Linked DNA regions of Homo sapiens: region 2 is linked to region 1. A link means that fine-mapping ties the variant in region 1 to the plasma level of a protein whose gene starts in the linked region. Region 1 holds a variant in brackets. A gene starts in the other region. All regions are shown on their forward strands. Region 1 holds the start of JRK (Jrk helix-turn-helix protein). Region 2 holds the start of GHRL (ghrelin and obestatin prepropeptide).

Evidence for each region. A credible set is the group of variants that fine-mapping cannot tell apart. PIP is the posterior inclusion probability: the model's chance that the variant is causal. The UK Biobank Pharma Proteomics Project read protein levels with antibody pairs (Olink). The fine-mapping took linkage between variants from a reference panel, not from the people measured, so its PIPs are less certain.
Region 2: it holds the start of GHRL, and the variant in region 1 is the best candidate, but not a certain one, in a credible set for the plasma level of the GHRL protein (UK Biobank, PIP 0.60).

Annotation. Positions count from the first base shown.
Region 1 is chr8:142,668,524-142,679,499 of GRCh38, forward strand. It overlaps JRK (Jrk helix-turn-helix protein), which reads right to left and starts at 1,444. Exons shown (of 2, transcript NM_003724.4): 1 at 1,409-1,444. It also overlaps a transcript of PSCA not described here. RefSeq lists silencers at 1,101-1,390, 1,641-1,790 and an enhancer at 1,491-1,640. The variant T/C (reference allele first, on the strand shown) is at 10,238.
Region 2 is chr3:10,290,038-10,301,013 of GRCh38, forward strand. It overlaps GHRL (ghrelin and obestatin prepropeptide), which reads right to left and starts at 2,910. Exons shown (of 6, transcript NM_016362.5): 1 at 2,805-2,910; 2 at 679-1,414; 3 at 36-172. The coding sequence starts at 143. GHRLOS (ghrelin opposite strand/antisense RNA) reads left to right here. Exons shown (of 6, transcript NR_073568.1): 6 at 2,031-3,412. It overlaps SEC13 (SEC13 homolog, nuclear pore and COPII component), which reads right to left. Exons shown (of 9, transcript NM_183352.3): 9 at 10,894-10,976. RefSeq lists enhancers at 554-1,156, 2,668-2,737, 2,748-2,997, 2,808-3,102.

The DNA.
Region 1 (10,976 bases):
TAATATGAACCCGCTGTAGAAAAACTGGGGGAGACACGGAATCCCACAGTAGCTTATGAGGGACTAACTGGGGACTGGGATGCAGAGAAAAGCTTCCTGGAGGAGACTCAACACCAGACACAGCTCCTCGCGGACACGTCTCCATGCCTGACATGCAGGTGTAGCAGGATGACACAAAGTGGCTGAACTTGTTTCATAAGGAATATCTGAATTTTATTTTTAAAGGAAGTTTTTGGTCTTGCAAGTGGGACAACAGTGTGTTCTGCCAGTTTGTGTCATCCTGCCACACCTGCACGTCAGGCATGGAGACGTGTCCACAAGGAGCCCGTGTCTGGTGCTGAGTCTCCTCCAGGACGCTTTTCCCGGCATCCCAGTCCCCAGTCAGCCCCTCACAAGCTACTGTGGGATTCCCTGTCTCCCCGAAATTAGGGTGGTTTCTTGCCTTGCGACTGGAGAGGAAGCACTGATCCCCAAGGCCACGTGAACACGGGATGAAACGTGCAATTCTCCTGTGCCCAAGGCACAGACAAGAAACGGGAGGCCTGAGGGGCCAGCGCTGGGGCTGACTCCGTCCTGTGTGAGGCTAAGAGGCCCTGAGAAACGCGGGGGGAAAGCGGGAAACAACCTTCGCAGGGGCATAGTGTGTGTGTGTGTGTGTGTGTGTGTGTGTGTGTGTGCGTGTGTGTGTTGGGGGGTATGGAGGATATGAAGGAGAAATACTCAAAAAACAAGTCGCATTCTGGAGCTGGGGGAAGAGGTGAGCTGGGGGTCAGAAGGAGAGTATGGGACAGAGAAGGAGGGGACAGAAAGCCTGGGGCCGTGCGCCCCGCAGAGAGCGCCCGAGAGCCGGCGCCGAGTTCCGCTAGGAGCCCTCCACGCTGGGGGATCCTGGCGCAGAGACAGCGCTGGGCTACTGGCGAGGCTCGCTTAAAAAGCGTCCGTACCCCAGGGTCCCCGTTTGTGGGTAGAAATTCAGTCTGGGACAAGAACAAGAACAAAAACAGAAATGGAGAAAAAAAAGTCTCGGTCTGGTTTTTTAAGGGCAAGCGGACCTCGTGACCAAGCCTCTCTGAGAGTGGAAGCGCAGGAAGGGTCCGGGCTGGGGCGTCAAGGCCAGGCCTGGCGGCAAGGGGTGGGTGCGGCTCGGGGGCCGCGCGCTCAGGCCGCGGGGGTCGCGCGGGAAGCACAGGGCTTCGGGTTCCGAGCGCGGCTCCCGGGAGGGGGCGCTGCCGCCCGCGGCTGGGTCCGGCCCCGCAGCCTCGCGACCAACCCCGCCCCGCCCCGCGCGCCCGCCTGCCCAGACTGCGGCTCCCGCCCGCGCCGCCCGCGCCCACCAGGGACCGGAGAGCGCCCGCACCCATCCGGCCCGGCCCGGCCGCCCAGCGCCTCAGGCCAGGACCCTACTCACCCTGCTCACCCGGAGCAGCCGCCGCCGGCCGGAAGTGCCGGCCACTCGGTTCTCCTCCAGTCCGCGCCTCGTCGCCTTCCCCCAGCTACTTCCGGGACGCTCTAGACAGGCTGGAGGACTCAGCACTCGGTGGTGTCTGGGAGCCAGACGCAGGCTTTCAAAGAGCTGGGTGGCCGCGGAGGGCGTGGGAGGAGAGGAGGCCTGGAGGAGAGGAGTGGGGGGGTCCCAGGGTGGGGGGAGGCGTGGGAGGGGAGAAGGCGCGGGCAGGGAGGGGAGAGGGGAAACGGGGCGAAGGCGGGGCGCGCGGCCTGGGCCCCGGGCTCCGCCCTGCTCTCTCCATCTGTAGAATGGGCGCAGGGCGTCACATTCCTTTCATGACAGTGAACCCTGCGCTGAAGGCGTTGGGGCTCCTGCAGTTCTGGGGCAGCCACAGGCGCCCAGGGTTTCGTGCCGATCAGCCCAGGACGGTCTTCCCGGTGCAGTTTCTGATGCGGGGAGGGCAGTGCTGCCTTCCGGTCACCAGGACCAGTGCTCAGCCCGCCTGCTTGACCCCCTTACTTAGCTGGGGTCCAATCCATACCCAATTTAGATGATTCAGACGATGGGATTTGAAACTTTTGAACTGGGTGCGACTTAAGTGAGTATGGACCTGAGTTGGTGCTGTAATGAGTTGAGGCTGTGGAGGACCTTGAGATGGGTGCGTGGATTTTGCCCATGGGACCTATGCAAATTTTGGAAACTGGAGGGTGGACTGTGGTGGGCAGAATAATGGCCCTCCAAGGATGTCCACATCCTAACTTCCAGGTCTTGTGAATACATTACTTACATGGCAAAAGGGACTGCAAATGCAATGAAGTTAAGATTCTTTAGGTGGAGAGATTCTTATGTTTATCAGGGTGAGCCCAATGTGCAGTCGTCCCTGGGTATCCATAGAGGATTGGTTCCAGCACTTCTCAAGGATGCTAAAATCCTTGATGCTCAAATCCCTTACATAAAATGGCTTCGTATTTGCATATAACCTACACACATCTTCCCGTATACGTTAAGTCACTTCTAGATTACTTATAATACCTAATACAATGTAAGCGCTATGTAGATAGTTGTTATACAGTATTGTTTAGGGAATAGTGACAAGAGAAAAATTTGTACATGTTCAGTACAGACACAGGTTTTTTTCCGAATTGTTTGTATCCTCGGTTGGTTCCATCTGGATGCAGAGCCCACGGGTTCAGATAGGAGGGCAGGTGCCATATCAGGGGTTCTTGTGGGAGTTAGGAAGCCAAGTGAGAGGACAATGGGATGAAAGAGGAGAGAAAAGGAAATGTGACAACAGACACAGGGGTTGGAGTGATGTGCTTTGAAGATGGAGGAAGGGGCCACAAGCCAAGGACTATGAGCGGCTTCTAGTGGCTGGGAGAGACAAGGAAACAGGGCCTCTCCTGGAGCCAGCAGAAGGAATGCAGCCTGCTGACCCCTTGATCTTAGCCCATGACACTCATTGTGCCATTAGACTTCTGAACCCAGAGCTGTAAGATATAAATTTGTATTGTTTTGGATCACCACGTTTATGGTAATTTGTTAGGACAGCAATAATAAACAAATACAGATTTGGGTAGCTCACTCCTCCTTTTTCCTTTTTTGAGGTAGGGTCTCACTCTGTTGCCCAGGCTGGAGTGCAGTGGTACATTCTCCTCACCGCAGCTTCAACCTCCTGGGCTCAAGGGATCCTCCTGCCTCAACCCCCAGAGTAGCTGGGACTACAAGCATGCACTGTCTCACCTATCTTTTTAATTTTTTGTGGAAACGAGGTCTAGCTGTGTTGCCTAGGCTGGTCTCGAGCTCGTGGACTCAAGCGATCCCAAAATGCTGGGATTCCAGGCACGAGCCCATGTGCCAGCTCACTCATCCTTAGGTCCGTTGTTACCTGGGCTCCCAGCACCCTCCCACCCTCTGGTTCTTCTCTTCCTCACCCTCCCTTGCTGGTTCCTTACTGACCAGGCCATTCTTTGGCTCTTTTTGTTCAACCAGTCCCCACTCCCTGGGTGATCTCCTCCAGTGTCATGCCGTTAAATACCATCCAACACTGGCAACGACCAAATTCATGTCTCCTGCCAGGGCCCCTCCCCAGAAATCCAGACTCCTATGTGCTAGCCAATGTCTCTGCTTAGCTTTGATCCTCCAGCCCAGCCTTGCTCCATCTGCATTGCCCCCACCTTCATGAACGGCAGCTCACCTTGCTATTCACTCAGGCTCAGCCTCAACAGTCTCCATCCCTCATATCCAGATCCTCTACCCTCAAAATCCAGCCAGTGTTTGGCCTCTTCTCACTCCCTCCAACTGCCCTCCCCAATCCACACCTCTGTGGTCTTGCCTCCTCCCCAGTCTCTGTTTCTGCCCTTACCCCCATACAGCTATCAACTGCTGCATCAAAAACCGCCCAAAACTTAGCAGCTTGAAACCAACTGTTTTTATTGCAGATGATTCTGTGGGGCAGGAATTTGGCCATGCTAGAGTCAGATGTGTTTCACAGAGGAGGCTGAGTCACGGAGCATACCAGGCACATGGCAGGACTGGAACCCAAGGTCCCTGGACTGGGGCTCCCATGGCAGGGTCTCCTGGGACAGCAAAGTCCTCCCTCCCCCGGAAGGCTGGCTCCATCCCTGGTGCGACTCTGCTGCTGAAGCAGCATCATTGGGGTAAATACCTGGGGTTCATTGTCTCACACCAAGAAGATTAAGGACATGGACTCATGTAGATGGGTTAAGGAGCAGAAAGTTTAATAGACAGAAGAAAGGAGAGAAGAGAGCAGCCCTCTCTTTCGAAAGAGGCGTCCAAAAGAGAAAAGCCAGCCTGCAGCAGACCCCAGCAGATTTTATAGGCAGGCTTGAGGAGGCAGTGTCTGATTTACAAAGGGCCCACAGATTGGTATGACCAAGGGTGATGTTTACATATGGCGTGGGGAAGGCTGGTCGCCCCACCCTAATCTTATTATGCAAATGGGCTTCTACTTGGCCAGCACCATCTTGTCTGCTCCTTGCTGTACACATGGCTGGCAAAGAGAAGGGAAGATGGAGCTGCCATTTTGATCATGCCTAGTCTCAGGTAGCTTTTTCCCATTGGCACAACTGCTGGCATTCACGCGTGCAAGCTTCCAGCTTGCTTGTCTTATGTTTGCGGCTCGATTTTACAGGCTGCTCTTTGTTAGAAAAGAAAATGATTTGGAGCCTGCTTTTCATTAAAAGGAAAACCTTACTGAGGACTTCCTTACCCTCACTATCTGCCTAAATAATTTATTTTTAACTCCTATTTTTAACTGCCACCTCAGGGACATGGGATCACGTGGTCTCCCAGGACTTGGACAGTGCTGGTGGGCAGTGGGGATTGGCATGAAACTGGGGCCTCATCCCAAGATGCATGGGGCTCCTCCAGGTGCTCCTACCATTACTCACGGAACCTTGGGCCTCTTCTCGAGGACCAAGTCCATTCTGACACTGGGAGGGGTCAGAAAGAGAGGAAGAAAATACACTAGCGTGTAATCACCCAGTGGGTTCATTTTGACCCCTGGCAAGATAGAGCTGATTTAGCAAGACAGGGGAATTGCCATAGAGAAAGAGTTTAATTCATGCAGAGCCAGCTGAACGGGAGACCAGAGTTTTATCATCACTCAAATCAGCCTCTCAGAAAATTCGGACGCTAGGGTTTTTCAAGGAGAGTCTGGTGGGCCAGGGAATGGGTGCTGCTGGTTGGCTGGGGATGTGGAAAATGGTCCTCCTGTGCACTGAGTTTGCGTCCAGGTGGGGCCACAGGACCGGCTGCGGGGTTGGTGGGCCTCGCTAGAGCCATCCATCAGTCATTAGACGTGCAAAAACCTGAAACGACATCTCACAAGGCCAATCTTAGGATCACAATAGTGATGTTACTTGCAGGAGTAATTGGGGGAGTTGCAAATCTTGTGGTCCCTGGAATAACGGCTGGGAGTCGTTTCAGTCTAACCTCAGCAGAGCTCAGATCCCCTCATCTTCCTAATGAATAACGGCTGGGAATCGTTTCAGTCTAACCTCAGCAGAGCGCAGATCACCCATCTTCCTAATGAATAACGGCTGGGAATCGTTTCAGTCTAACCTCAGCAGAGCTCAGATCCCCTCATCTTCCTAATGAATAACGGCTGGGAATCGTTTCAGTCTAACCTCAGCAGAGCTCAGATCCCCCATCTTCCTAATGAATAACGGCTGGGAATCGTTTCAGTCTAACCTCTGCAGAGCTCAGATCCCCCATCTTCCTAATGAATAACGGCTGGGAATCGTTTCAGTCTAACCTCAGCAGAGCTCAGATCCCCCATCTTCCTAATGAATAACGGCTGGGAATCGTTTCAGTCTAACCTCAGCAGAGCTCAGACTCCCCTCATCTTCCTAATGAATAACGGCTGGGAATCGTTTCAGTCTAACCTCAGCAGAGCTCAGATCCCCCATCTTCCTAATGAATAACGGCTGGGAATCATTTCAGTCTAACCTCAGCAGAGCGCAGATCCCCTCATCTTCCTCATGCAGTGGTGGCCTTTCGTTAGCTTTACAAAGATGGCTGAGTTTTGGAAAAGGGCTGTTATGCCCAGAAATGACTAAGGGCAGTTTGGAGATTAACTGGCTGTGGGTTAGATCAGATCTCCTTCACCATCACCATTTTCTCACTGTTAAAACTTTTACAAAGGCAGTTTCCAGTGTCTCCTGGGGGCTGGCTCTGAGGACTCCCTTCCCCCAGCCATGCCCCAAGTTCGCAGAGCAGAGCCCCCAGACTATGCCTGGGCCACTGCACCAGCCTGCTTCCCTACTGAGCGGAGCCTCCAGACCATGCCTGGGCCACTACAGCAGCCTGCTTCTGCACTGGCTTCCCCATCTCCACCCACAGTCAGAGTGGCATTTGACAGGGCCAGTCACTCCCCCTGCCCAAATAAGCCTGTGCACTCTGAATACAGCTCAGGTCCTCGCTGGGCCACAAGGCCACGCCGGAGCTAACCCCTCACTGTCCTCTCCGAAGCCCATGGGTCATCCCCCGTGCCTGCTATTCCCTCTGCCTGGAGGTGGGCTTGTATCCGGCAGTGTCCTTTGCTCAGGTGCCGGAGGCCTCAGGTTGGGGCAGTCCCAGCCAGCCCTCCTTCTGGAGGTCTCTGGATGACAGGCCTCTCATAGCAGGGGTGGCTGGGGGTGCTGGTGAGGCTGTGCCCAGCTGGAAGGGAAGGGTGTGCCTTGGGTCTCCTCCCCAGTCTGAGTTCACTCCAGGAAGGGGGAGTGGCAGGAGCAGAGGGTGCAGAGTGGTGGGGGTGGTTCTGAGGGTCATTGGAGGCCAAGGGGCCTGGCTGGTGGGGCAGGGGCTGGGGCAGTGCCCATCTCCACCTTAGTGCCCAGGCAGGAGGGGAGCTGGTTTGGGGCAGGGCCCTGATGACGCCTTTGTGAGAGCCAGGAAAAGGCACCTCCTCTGGGAACACAGGGCCCTGGGGGAGTTAGAGATGGGGAGGGCCTGTGGGCCCCAGCTGGGTGGGCTTGGGGAAGAACGCCTCTGAGGGGCTCCAAGCTGCACAGCCCTCAGGACTTGGTGGCCCCAACACACCCACATTTACACACATGCTTTTGCTTACACAACACACAACCGGTGCACACACCCACACTCACTTGCATTTACACACATGCCACACATTTGCACATTTGATCCACATGCACAGACAAGCATCCTCTCTCACACTCTCACACACACTATGTGGCACACTCCCATGCCCACATAGTTGGCACATACAAACCCTCACAGTCACATATCACACACACACAGCTTGCAAGTCATGGCCTTAATTTCCAGAACCCAAATGGGGGCTTGGCACTGAGTGCCCCCAGCCAACCCATGTGCATCAGTGGGTTTTCCTCCTGATCTGCAAGGGCGTTTTTCCAAAGCAAAGATGCTAAAAACTGACACCAGCGTGGCTTTGCAAGTGACATGCTATCTTTATTTTTTTAATTAATGCTGCATGAAATAAAAAAAATTACACACAGGGATGTGTGTTCCAGCATGGGACCGTGTGGGGCCCCAGAAGGTGGTGGTGGGACTCCCTGCAAGGTGAGTCAGCTCCCAGAAGCCCCAGGGCCTGGTCCGGCTGTCCTGGCCCCGGCCTCATGCCCTGCACTAGGTGGAAGACAGGATCTCCAGGGAACCCGGCTGCTTTGGGCCCATGGCAGTGGGGTGGGTGGGCAGAAGGCCAAGAGCAAACAGGAAAATCTGGAGTCCCTGGAGGCAACTGGCAGAGAAGAGGAAGGAGGCCAAGGGTGAGTCACACTGAAGCCACACTAACTGTTGTTATTGTACATGATTCTGTGGGTCAGGAATTTGAGCATGCTAGAGTCAGATGTTTCACAGTGGAGGACGCTTAGTCATGGGGCATACCAGGCACATGGTGGGACTAGAACCCAGGGCCGCTGGATGGGGGTTCCCAAGGCAGGGTCTCCTGGGACAGGAAGGCTGGTTCCATCCCTGGTGTGACTGCTTACCACCTCAGGGACGGGATCACTTGGTCTCCCAGGACTTGGGTGCTGCTGGTGGGGAGTGGAGATTGGCATGGAACTGGGGTCGGAACTGGGGCCTGATCCCCAAGATGCATGGGGCTCCCCCAGGTGCTCCTACCATTACTCAGGGAACCTTGGATCTCTTCTCAAAGACCAAGTCCATTCTGGCACTGGGGAGGGATCAGAAAGAGAGGAAGAGAAGGAAGAAAATACACTAGTGTGTGATCACCCAGGGGGTTCATTTTGACCCCTGGCAAGATACAGCCGATTTATCAAGACAGGGGAATCACAATAGAGAAAGAGTTTAATTCACACAGAGCCAGCTGACCGGGAGACTGGAGTTTTATTATCACTCACATCAGCCTCTCAGCCCCTGTCCACCGGATGAGGATCTGCAGGAAGCCATGCCCCTTGTGGCAGAACTTCCCAGAAAGGAGAACTGCCAGAAGATCCAGGCTCAGTTTAGGCTCAGGGGCTGCATTCAGTGTATGGCCAAAGTGTGAATGACAGGGGACAGGGATTCGCCTGTGACCAGGGTCAAAAATCAGAGGGTGACCACAGTCAGGGTTCATTCTGTGACCAGGATCAGGGCTCAGCCAGTGGCCAGGGCCAGGGCTCAGGGTGGGGCCGTAACCAGGGCTCGTTAGGTAACCAGGATTAGAGTTCAGACTGACCACAGTGAGGGCTCAGTTTTGGGGTGAGGTCAGAACCCAACCTGTGGTCAGGGGTGGGGCTCTAGGAATGTCACAGCCATGGTCTTCCGTATAGGAGCCATGACCACGGGGCCATCCTCAGACCAGCCACACCCTCAGTGCGGCGGATGCTGGGGCTGCGGATTCTGTGGTGGGGATCCTGTGTGTTGCCCCCTCCTTGGCCTGCACCCACTAGAGGCCAGCAGCACCCCTGAGCTGGAATAAGCAGAGATGCCTCCAGACATCACCAAACATTCCCTGGCGGTGCAGAGTCACCCACGTGAGAACCACTGCCTTACAGCAATCACTGTGTATCAAATCAGATCAACAAACACTTACACACCTATAAATATTTGAGGACGGAAAGTTCCAGGCTGGCACCTTGAACACAGAGACAGATAAGAAAACGTCTTGTGCGGGAGTGGCCAGAGTCCGGGCGAGCTGGGGCGGGGGGCGGAGGGAGGATGGGACAGGGGCTGTCAGCCACACACGGAAGCAGTTCATGACTGTATGAGGCCCCTTGTCCTGAGCTTACAGGACATGGGCTGGAGGGCGTGTCCAGAGGGAAAGTTCTGGGTGGGCAGAGTGGGCAAGCAAGGAGTCTGGGGGAGGCTGCAGTCACCCTGCATGGCCTCCAGTAAGTTCCTGTCCCTCTTGGGCTCAGGCTCCTCACTTGCCAGAGAAGAGACAATTTCCATGGAAAAGAGCCCAACCCAGTGGGTTCCAGGGAGGCAGGCAGGAGAGACCTCAGAAGGACAGGGGCTGACCTGGAGCCCCGGGGGAAGCCCAAAGGCAGATTCCTGGTGCCACTGAGTCCCAGGGAGGTCGGGTCTTGCATCGTCCCTGCCCCCATCAGTAGTGTCACCTTGATCCCAGACTCAAGGTGAGACAGTGGGAAGCTGATGTCCCCTGAACACCCCAGAAACATCTACCAGCCTTCCTGGACGGTGCAGGCCTTCCTGGACGGTGCAGACCTGCTGGGAGAGGGTCCGATTCCCCGAGACTTTTCCTGACTGCAACATCCTCACCACCCCCTAAAATGTGCCAGAGCCTTTTCAGGGGCAAAATCGAGGAGAGGAGGTAACAATGAAGGCCGGACAACCATCAGCGGGGACGAGAGAGCGTCAGGGGAGAAGGGGCCGGTCTCCCTCCAGACACACACTCGGCAGCAGGCAGGGCCACGGACCACAGTGGACCTACCAGCTTCCGGCAGGAACAACAGCATACCCAAGAGGGTTGCCAGGCAGAGTTATCTAACTCAGGGTCCATGTACAAAGGCAGGGGTCAGGTTGAAGGAGACAGCAGCGGCCACAAGTCCCCCTCAAAGCCAGCCAGCAGCAGGAAGCCACCAGCCCCTCGGGCTTGCAGGGATGAGGGGGAGAGCACAGTGACCAGAGGCTGGCCAGAACCCGGGGGACAGGAGAAGCCTGGCTGACGGGACCTGGGCCTTCTCTAGAGGGCCATAGCCACTGCCACCACCACCCAGCCACTGGCAGGAGAGCCTGGGCCTGCTCTAGAGGGCCATAGCCACTGCCACCACCACCCAGCCACTGGCAGCAGAGCTTGGGCCTGCTCTAGAGGGTCCTAGCCACTGC[T/C]ACCACCACCCAGCTGGCTGGCAGGAGAGCCTGGGCCTGCTCTAGAGGACCATAGCTACTGCCACCAACACTCAGCCGGCTGGCAGGAGAGCCTAGGCCTGTACTAGAGGACCATAGCTACTGCCACCAACACTTAGCCAGCTGGCATGAGAGCCTGGGCCTGCTCTAGAGGGCCATAGCCGCTGCCACCACCCACCGCCCAGCTGACTGGCATGAGAGCTTGGGCCTGCTCTAGAGGGCCATAGCCACTGCCACCACCGCCCAGCGGGCTGGGCCTGCTCTAGAGGGCCATAGCCACTGCCACCACCTCCCAGCTGACTGGCAGGAGAGCTGGCCTGAACTTGCCTCTTCCACTCTCTCATCTCCTGCCTGTGGGAGCTGGACCAGCCTCCCAGGACATGGAGCAGGACGGAGAGGGGATCTGGGGCAAACAGAGGCCATACAGCCCTGGGCCTAGCCGCTGCCTCCTGCTACTGCAGAGGCTGCTAAAAGCTGCACTTCCCCGACTCGTTTGCAGCTAAAGTTCCAAGCTGAGGGGGTCACTCAAGGTCCTGAGGGTAAAGCACCTAGCCCAGGGCTCAGCCCACACTGAATGCCCCATAAATGAAGGCCCGTCCAACAGGGTCTCCTCCCCAGGGAGGCTGTCCCCTGTGTCAACAAGAGCCAAACTCTGTAAAATATTTGAAGACATTTATTCTGAGCCAAATATGAGGGACCATGGCCTGTGACACAGCCCCCA
Region 2 (10,976 bases), not on the chromosome of region 1:
GGAACAACATGTGGGGCTTTGTGGGGAGGTCTCACCTGGACTCTCTGGTGTTCAGGGCTCAGGAAGCTGGAGCCTGCCATGGCCAAGTCCAGCCAGAGCATGCCGAGGAGCAGGAGGCTGCAGACGGTCCCTGGGGAGGGCATGGCCTCAGCTGGGTTGCAGACAGGTGGGCCTGGGGGAGAGAGGGTCTCCAGGCAGCTGCCTCCCCTTCTCATGTGCCTCTGAGCTTGCTCAGGTAGGAGCCCAGCAGATGGCGTGAAGGGCTTTACCATCTGGGGTCCTGACTGCTGTGTAGAGAGGACCCCCGCTTCCACCTCCCAAGGTAGAAGATGATGGATGTGTGTTCTCTTCTCCAAGGCCGTTCAGGGCAGAACACCTGGCAGCAGGACTTGATAGGGGCTGGGGGTCCTCCCCGGTGCCTTTTGTCCCAGGCTCTGAGAGCTCATGGCGAGTCTTTTCATGAGGAGGGAGGAAGCTGAACCAGCAAGGGCCCCAGGGCACTCAGCAGGGAGGGGGTTAGAGGTAGCTCCTAAATGAAGCTCTGTCTTCCAGCCAGACAGTCCGACATCCCCCGTGTTTAGAGGGGACTCCTGAGGCCCAGAGAGGTTAAACGGACGGGCAGCAGTCACGGACAATAAACCTGTCAGCAAACGCACACGGAGAGTAGAGAGAGCTTACCTGCAGTTCCTGGCGGAGGTGGTGCCTGGTGGCTGTCAGGTCCTTATATAGGATGACTGGCGTTTGTTCTAAACCAGCAACCCCATCCCAGAGGTGGCCTAGCTTCCGTGGGGCTGATGTACATTCCTTGGGAACTAAAAATGTTCTTGTCCTCTGGGTAGAAGTCAACAGTGGAGGTCAGATGCCCTGCGGAATTGCTGGGTTGGCGAGGGAAGAAGCATGTGCTCCAGCTGTCCCTGGAACACGGTGGCGGGGTGCCCCAAGTGGGCATGGCCCTGGTGGAGGAGGGAGGGAGGAGAGTGGCTCTGGGGTCTGGGTGCAGCTTTGTTGCTGTGTGACCTTAGCTTACTCGCCCTTTCTCCCTGGGTAAAATGAGGCTGTCATCACTAGGAGAGCTCTGAGACCTCCCCAGTCCAGCGCCCCGTTGTTTCCCATGTGCTGTTGCTGCTCTGGCCTCTGTGAGCCCCGGGAGTCCGCAGGGAGCCAGGCTGGTGATTCTACACCTTCCCGAGGAGGAGTCCCACCTCCCGGTTGAGCAGACTGCTCCTGATCATCCTCTCCAGAGAGTGGGTGTGGGGATAACTTCAGCCAGTGGCTATGCTTCAGTCATTTCTGCCAGGTGTGACATGACTGCCTGGCCTGGCGTTTTTTCACATAGCAGCTTGCCTTGCCTCCCTCCAGCAGCTTTGGTCCCTATTTTAGCGGATGCCTCTTCTGAGAGGGAAGTGCATTGGACCTGGAGGTGGAAGATCTACGCTTAGCACGGGCCTGGCTCCTCTCTCATTGACTGGCCTTACGCCGACCACAAATAATTCCCCTTACCCAGAGTCTTTGAGGGTGAAATGAGGCGATGGGGGGAAAGTGGCTTCTAACCTGTGAAACACCCTGCAGATGACAATGGTTTCATACCAGGCCCATAGGACTTCCCAGCATAGGCCAAGGCCACTGCCTCATTTCCCTCGGCCCCAGGAATTTCTTCCTTTCTGGAGTGCTTCATCCAACTGGGTGCCCAGGCAGGAACCCCTAAGGGCCAATGAGTTGTCTGCAGAGAAGTTCTAGCAGTTCAGGAGAGGAGCTCACCTTAGGCTGGGGCTTGCGGCAGGGATGTTAGCAAAGGCTCCAGGAAAGAGGCCTGTGGTGAACTCGGGGCAGGGCTTTGGAGGGAGGGCTTTGCGGCAAGCAGAGGGGAGGTGAAGGCGTGGGTAGAGTACATCAGGGCAGCATGGAGAAGGCTGGGTGGCTTGGGGGAGGGTGGCGATGGGGTCATAACAAAAACATAAGAAGGTGGTTTGGGGCCAGGTGATGGATGCCTTGGGAACTGCTAGCCCAAGAAGTTTGGGCTTTTTTTGCAGGAGGGCAGCCACTGAGGATTCTTGAGGAGAGAGAGACCATAGAATGAATGAAAGAGTTGGAAAGACTTTAAAGCTCTGGGAGGCTGAATCCTTTATTTCGCTGGAAGAAAAACTGAATGCCAAGAGGGCCTCACTTTCCCCAAAGCTATACAGCCATCAGGGGCAATGCTGGGATTCCCCCATGGATCTCTTGACTCCTAATACAGTGCTCTTTCTGATATGCCATCTGGCTCCATAATGAACATTGTGTTCCAGGAAAATCAGTCTGCGCTGAACAGGATGGAATTGGGGCAGGACGTCCAGTGAGGAGGACATTGAGGCAGTAGAGCAGTTGATTGCCGAATGACCACCTACCCTGACTTAAAAGATCAACCTCAGGGAGGATTGGAGCTTTCTAGAGTCTCTTGGGACAGCAGAAGCACAGGCCGGGTTGGACTGAATCTTTAAGTGGACATGAGGGACAAAGTACCTCCTGTTGGTAAACATCTCACCACCAACCCACTGTGGTGGCTAAAATCCCACCTTTAGTCCCAGCAACATATGAGCATGTCACCAGGAGGTCTTCACAGGCCTGTCTGCCACCTGAGTGTAGACATCTTTTGGCCCTGGAGCCCAGAGAGGCTGAATGTGGAGAGGGTGGAGAGAGGTCTGTAGTCCTCAGAGAAGACTTGCAGCTTTTTCAGAGCCACCAACCCATAAAAAAAAAAATCCCCAAACAGAAAAATCCTAACTGTGGTGACCAGGTACCTCCTGAGACATGAAGCCTCCACTTACCTGGACCCTGGAGGCCTCTCCGGGCACAGCTGCCAATGTTGATCTTAGATAAGACCACCAGCAAGTAAACATCCACTGTGCAAAGCTGTGTTATCTTTGGGGAACTGAAATGTCCCCTGGGAGTTGGAAACTCCCCTAGCCACATACCACAGAGTTGAGGAAGGAAGAGCTGATGGACGGAAGAACCATGGCGGGAGGAGTCATCCGGAAGCTACCTCGCTGCCCTGTCAGTTACGGAACAGAGGAGAGATGCCGGCTGGAGGACACAGCAAATTTGAACCAAGAGGAGCTTGGAGGAAGCCCGAGCGACCTGGAGGGGACTGGCTGACCTTCCTCATTCTTTTCAAGTGTGAATAATAACCAAGCCCAGTTTGGCAACTCCTTGAGGGTGAGGACGAAGCCCCATTCTCCTTTTTGGAACTTGGTGGGGCTCAGGAAGCAGGTTCTCTCCAGTCGGTGGCTTTCCTTTCTGTTGCGGGTCTCTTGAGGGCCTGCCTTCATGAAGGCACATGAGTGACTCATCATTTGTGAATTAATTGCTATATGTGAAGGGCATCTGAGAACAAATTATCTTCATAGACTTTTCATTATAATTTTATTTGTACTGATAATTAGTTGGTTTAGCAAGCTCTTTTTTCATAGATTTGGCTAAACTTCAGTCTGAAAGAGGCAAATTCTGGGGTTCTAGAAAGAGATTTTATTCTTTGATATAGGGCTATTTGGTGGGGTTGCTTTTTGTCCTAGTTGTAGCTTTTATAATTTCGAGATTCACATTTTGCAATAGAAATATACAGGCATACCTTGGAGGCATTACAGCTTTGGTCCCAGACCACAATGAAGCAAGTCACACGAATTTTGTTGGTTTCCCAGTAAATATAAAACGTATGCTGATACCATACTATAGTCTAAGTGTGCAACAGCATATGTCTAAATGAATATACATATATATTTTTTTGAGACAGGTTCTTGCTCTGTCACCCAGGCTGGAGTGCAGTGGCACTATCATGGCTCACTGCAGCCTCCACCTCCCTGGACTAAGATGATCCTCCCACCTCAGGCTCCCAAGTAGCTGGGACTACAGGTCACACCACCACACCCAGTTAATTTTTGTATTTTTTGTAGAGACAGAGTCTTGACATGTTGCCTAGGCTGGTCTTGAACTCCTGGCTTAAGTGATCTGCCTGACTTTGCCTCCCAAAGTGCTGGGATTACAGATGTGTAGTCTTTGAAATCCAGTGTGTGTTCTTACAGTGCATTTCAATTTGGACTAGCCATGTTTCAAATGCTCAGCAGCCACATGCGGCTCATTCTAGATAGGCGGCCATCGCTCTTAAATCCTCCCTGACCTTAGCCATGCTCTCTCATCCCTCCTCTTCGCCAAGCTCTGCCTCTCTCACTGGGGCTTCCCTAGCCTCCGGCCATCTTGGGGCCAAAGCTCTAACACTTTGCCTCTCTCGTGTCTTCTGTTCCCCTCCAGTGGCTTCTGCTTTCTGCCTTAAAATACACCCAGGTTCCTAATCCTGAAAACGTCTGTTGTGCACCGATCCCACCCTCCCCTCGTGTTACCATCTCCATTTCCTTCCCCTTTCCTTGTGTCCTCTTCTTTGCTGTGTCCTGGCCCCTCAAAACTTGACCTTGCCTCTCATCCCCACTGCTGTACTGAAACTGTTGTCTCAGCGTTGCTGATCATCCAGCCTTTTAGTCTATGGACCGCTAAGAGCCATAGGACGACCTCAGGGTGGGACGTGGCTTGGAGGGCCATCTCGTCTCAATTTCCAGATACAGACCTGTGTTGGGTTGTGTTGGATTCATGAGGAAAGCTTCATAAGTTTTATGCACGTTTATAAGACTCCATCCTTGGATTCTGATCCAGTAGCTCTGGCGTGGGGGCTTTAGAATCTGTTTCAAGTATCTCAGGTAATTTTGATTATAAATTACCAAGTATCCCAGGTAAATTTTGATTATAAATGCTTGCTTCCAGCAGAAAATATAAACATATGGAAGATGAAATCTTTCTCTCTGAATAACCCAATTCAGTTTCCACTCGTGAATATCTTATATAACCGTAGTACATTTATCAAAATTAAAACACCAGTGTTAGCACATTACTGTTAATCTCCAGACTATTTGTAAGTCACCAATTTTTCCATTGTCCCATCTGTTCTTCCTTTTCTTTCTCTTGTCATAACCACTTTTAGAGGGTTTTGAATGGTATCATTTTGTCTTCACCGTCGGCTTATTAGCTATACTGTACTGTTCTATTCTTTGAGTGGTTGCTCTAGGATTTACAAATATGACTTCAACATATTGCAGAATACCTTCAACAACTACGATATCCTTTCACAGATAGTGTAAGAACTGCACCACAGAATGCTTTCATTTCCCCACTTCTATTCTTTGTGATATTATTGTCACACATTTTATTTTTACTTAAGGTATGAGCCCCACAATGCATGTTAAATAGCCAAAGTTTTTAGACAGATTAAAGAAATTAAGAAAAAGTCTTATGAACTCAGGTATTTACTATCGTGTTGCTCCTTATTCCTTAGTGCAGATCCATTTTTCTTTTCTTTTTTATTTGAGACAGGGTCTCACTGTGTCACCTGTGGTTGAATGCAATGGCGTGATCTCAACTCACTGCAGCCTCCACCTTCTGGGCTCAACTGATCCTCCCACCTCAGCCTGTAAAGGGATATTTGCAAAGGGATATCGGAGTTGTTGAAGGTATTTGCAATATGTTGAAGTCATATTTGTTTTTTTTTTTTTTTTTTTTTTTTTTTTGAGATGGAGTCTTGCTCTGTTGTCCAGGTTAGAGTGCAGTGGCGTGATCTTGGCTCACTGCAACCCATACCTCCTGGGTTCAAGCAATTCTCCTGCCTCAGCCTCCTGAATAGCTGGGACTACAGGCATGCGCCACCACACCCAGCTAATTTTTGTATTTTTGCTAGAGATGGGGTTTTGCCATGTTGGCCAGGCTGGTCTTGAACTCCTGACCTCAAGTGATCCATCTGCCTTGGCCTCCCAAAGTGCTGGGATCACAGGCATGAGCCACCGCGCTGGGCCTGAAGTCGTATTTGTAAATCCTAATTTTTGTATTTTTTTTTGTAGAGACAAGGTCTCACCATGTCGGTCAGGCTGGCCTCACACTCCTGGGCTTAAGCAATCCTGCTGCCTCAGCATCCCAAAGTGCTGGGATTACAGGTGTGAGCCGCTGTGCCCAGCCTGTTTTTCATCTAGTATTTTCCTTCTGCCTGAAGGAAACTTCTTTGACATTTCTTGTAATGGCAGCTCTGCTGGTGATTAATTCTTTCAGCTTTTATTTGAAAGAGTCTGTATTAAAATATATATATATTTTCACTAGGTATAGAATTTGAGGCTGACAGGTTTTTTTTTTTTTAATTTTTTCAGTACTTTAAAGATGTTAATTTTCTTATGGTTTGCCTACTTTCTGATGAGAAGTTGGCTGCTGCTCCTTTTTTTTTTTTTTTTTTTTTGAGACAGAGTCTTGCTCTGTCGCCCAGGCTGGGGTGCAGTGGCGTGATTTCGGCTCACTGCAACCTCCACCTCCCGGGTTCAAGCAATTCTCCTGCCTCAGCCTCCCGAGTAGCTGGGATTACAGGCACCTACCACCATGTCTGGCTAATTTTAGTAGGGATGGGGTTTCACCATCTTGGTCAGGCTGATCTCGGACTTCTGACCTCGTGATCCACCCGCCTCAGCCTTCCAAAGTGTTGGGATTATAGGCGTGAGCCACGGCGCCTGGCCTGCTGCCACTCTTATATTTGTTCTTCTGGATGGAATGTCTCTTTTTTTTCTGGTTGCTGGGAACATGGGCTATTCCCACCCCTATGTGAGCTCCAGCTGCTTGGTCTATTGGTTTCACCCTTCATATATGAAGGTTAGTACTTGTCCAAAGACTCCAGGAGACTCTTCAGCTCTCAGGAGCTTGCTCTGTGCAGCTTCCTCCTCTCGTCCTCTTCTGCCTTCAGTTCTGCCTTGGTCTTTTTTGTTTGTTTGTTTGTTTTTTGAGACAGAGCCTTGCTCTTTCGCCCAGGGCAGAGTGCAGTGGTGTAATCTTTGCTCACTGCAACCTCCGCCTCCCTGGTTCAAGCAATTCTCCTGCCTCAGCCTCCCGAGTAGTTGGGATTACAGGGGTGCAACACCACGCCCGGCTAATTTTTGTATTTTTAGTAGAGACAGGGTTTCACCATGTTGGCCAGGCTGGTCTCGAACTCTTGATCTCAGGTGATCTGCCCGCCTTGGCCTCCCAAAGTGCTGGGATTACAAGCGTGAGCCACCGCGCCCGGCCTGCCTTGGTCTTCCTGAACTCTGACTTCTGTCTCTTCAACTCCTGGAGACTACTAGACTCTGGAGTCTCTCTTTACCTTTTGGCCCAGAAACTGCTTCTGGGTAGTAGTAACCTGGTGCATTTGTTGTGCTTACCTGTTTCCCTTTTCCCAAACACTGCCTGTTGTCCTATGTCTGAAAGCAGTAGTTGTTTCATGTACTTTTCATGATTTCCTAGTTGTTGTTTTTTTTTTAAATTTATTATTTTATTTTATTTTATTTTTTTATTTTATTATTGTTATACTTTAAGTTTTAGGGTACATGCGCACAATATGTGGGTTAGTTACATATGTATACATGTGACATGCTGGTGTGCTGCACCCATTAACTCGTCATTTAGCATTAGGTATATCTCCTAATGCTATCCCTCCCCCGTCCCCTCCCCCCACAACAGTCCCCAGAGTGTGATGTTCCCCTTCCTGTGTCCATGTGTTCTCATTGTTCAATTCCCATCTATGAGTGAGAATATGCGGTGTTTGGTTTTTTGTTCTTGCGATAGTTTACTGAGAATGATGATTTCCAATTTCATCCATGTCCCTACAAAGGACATGAACTCATCATTTTTTATGGCTGCATAGTATTCCATGGTGTATATGTGCCACATTTTCTTAATCCAGTCTATCATTGTTGGACATTTGGGTTGGTTCCAAGTCTTTGCTATTGTGAATAGTGCCGCAGTAAACATACGTGTGCATGTGTCTTTATAGCAGCATGATTTATAGTCCTTTGGGTATATACCCAGTAATGGGATGGCTGGGTCAAATGGTATTTCTAGTTCTAGATCCCTGAGGAATCGCCACACTGACTTCCACAATGGTTGAACTAGTTTACAGTCCCACCAACAGTGTAAAAGTGTTCCTATTTCTCCACATCCTCTCCAGCACCTGTTGTTTCCTGACTTTTTAATGACTGCCATTCTAACTGGTGTGAGATGGTATCTCATTGTGGTTTTGATTTGCATTTCTCTGATGGCCAGTGATGATGAGCATTTTTTCATGTGTTTTTTGGCTGCATAAATGTCTTCTTTTGAGAAGTGTCTGTTCATGTCCTTCGCCCACTTTTTGATGGGGTTGTTTTTTTCTTGTAAATTTGTTTGAGTTCTTTGTAGATTCTGGATATTAGCCCTTTGTCAGATGAGTAGGTTGTGAAAATTTTCTCCCATTTTGTAGGTTGCCTGTTCACTCTGATGGTAGTTTCTTTTGCTGTGCAGAAGCTCTTTAGTTTAATTAGATCCCATTTGTCAATTCTGGCTTTTGTTGCCATTGCTTTTGGTGTTTTAGACATGAAGTCCTTGCCCATGCCTATGTCCTGAATGGTAATGCCTAGGTTTTCTTCTAGGGTTTTTATGGTTTTAGGTCTAACGTTTAAGTCTTTAATCCATCTTGAATTAATTTCCTAGTTGTCTATAGTGTGAGGGAAATTCTTATTTATTATTAAAGAGACAGGCTCTTGCTGTGTTGCCCAGGCTGATCTCAAACTCCTGGGCTCAAGAGATCCTCCTCCCTCAACCTTCCAAAGTGCTGGCCACTGCGCCCAGCCAGGGAAATTTTTTTTTTTTTAGACAGAGTCTCACTCTCTTGCCCAGGCTGGAGTGCAGTGGTGCAATCTCGGCTCACTGCAACCTCCACCTCCTGGGCTCAAGCGATTCTTGTGCCTCAGCCTCCTGAGTAGCTGGCACTACAGAGGCACACACCACTGCACCTAATTTTTGTATTTTTAGTAGAGATGGGGTTTTGCCATGTTGGCAGGCTGGTCTTGAATTTCTGGGCTCAAACATTCCGCCCGTCTTGGCCTTTCGAAGTGTGGGATTACAGTTGTGAGCCACCATGTTGGCTGGGAAATTCTTACAATCGTTAATCCTTTATATGCAGAAGTGGAAGGTCTCCCCTTAGTGTTTCTGGGCTCACTTGTAAATGGAAGCCTGTGAATCTTCTAGTTTTGGGAGTTGTTTTCACAGTGGCTTGCTGAGTTTTGCACTCAGAATGGATGAGTATTTGATGGCAATTTTTGGGGTCTCTGGCTTATAGCACCATAAAAACTCCCTTTTCTTCACCCTGCTGATCTCTCAGAGGTATTGTGTCTATGAAGGCTTTGGCCTGCTCCATGTTCTAGGGTCTGTGGGTTTCTTTTGCTGTCCCAGTTGCTTTGTTTTTGCAAAAGGATTAAAAACATATGGCTGCTAGCGCCATCTGGCCCTAACCAGAGCTCTATGCCTTTTAAATTTCCCTTACTTTTATCTCATTTGGGCTTGACAACTGCCCGGCAAGTTTTACAGATAGTATTTCTATTTGACTAGGCTATTTTGTGGTAATAAATTTTGGGGTCTCCTCTTACCCAGGAATGGTTAATGTGTTGCCACTCTAAGTATAAACAACTATTATGGTGCCAACTTCATAATTATCTTAACCAATCCTTGGTGGTGGGAGTTAAAATAGAGCACACAGTCAGGGACCCATTAACCTACCACCAACCCAGAGTGACACGGGACTAGTTCCTTCTCGGTATTTTCTTGGCGACAGCAGCTGGCACCATAGGAAGCCCAGGCCCAGGCTTGAGGAGCACAGAGCGTATCAGGGAGGCAGACGTGGATATGGTTCAAGGATTCACTGTAGAACTCGACACTCAGTAGTGCACGTGAAGGTGCCTTCCTGGGCTTTGCTTTTCTGAGTAAGGGAAGGAAGGAAGCAGCTGTTTTCATGTTGGTCTCAGAAGGCTTGGGCTTTGTGGACTGACTGGAGGCTGACTGGGCCAGGCCATGGCCTCTCTGTCCTCACCTTTAACCAAAGCAGTTTCACTTTCTTCTATGTTACATAGTATGATCAAAGATTTTTTTTTTTTTTTAAAGGGGATTTTGCTGCTGAAAAAGGAGGGAAGGACAAGAAGTAGGCAGACTAGGGGGCCTGAGGCAAGTGGGCTGACCTTTTATCTGAATCTATTCATACAAAGGTTTGGTGTGAGAAACATCCTTGTATTACAGCTGAGGAGAGCCCCCCAGCTCCCACCCTGATTCTACAGTGGGGAGTAACTGTTGAGATGGGCCAGGCCCTGACGCTGGCTTTACGTTTGCACAGTCCTGGGCAGGGCTTCTACCTTCTGAGCGCTTCCTCATCAGTGAACTGGGTACACCCACACGGGGTTCTCGTGTTGCTTAAATTAGCGAATGTGTGAAAGATCCAGTGTAGGGTCTGGCTCACCGCAGGCTCACTGATGGCTATGGCGATTGTCAGGGTCACAGGGCCTCCGCTGAAAGGTGATACCTGGTTCAGGGTCAGTTAGGTCTCCCATCATGGGGCCCTCCTTTTCCTGACAGGGTCAATAAACTAAATGAATCGTGCCCACTTTCTGGGCCAGCATCTTAACTATTGGTGTTTGGTTAATACCACGTTGCACCTGCGTGGCATTTTGTAGGTCACCAGATGCACTAGCGTGTTTGAATCTTGCAGCCATCCTGTAGGGCAGACTGTATTAGTCCCATTCTGCAGAACAGGATGTGTACCGAGAGGGTAAGTAGCAGACCCAGGGCTACAGTCCTTGTCACCAAAGGCTGAGTCCAGTGCTCTGTATGGTGCTTTCAGTATAAACTGAATCAGAGATGCTCATGCAGTGACAAGCCACCTTTGTGCGTGGGGTTAAGCCAGGCCATCACAGCCGTGGCCTTTGTGAATAGTTTGTTCTAGTGCGTGGACCGACAAGAGTCAAACTGAGCTGGTGGGGTGGGGTGGTTAGGATAACGCAGCAGGAATTATAAGCAATATGACTTTATTTAGTTCCTTTGGAAACAAAACCCCCCAAATAATGCCTGAACCCAAAGGTACATAAAAATGA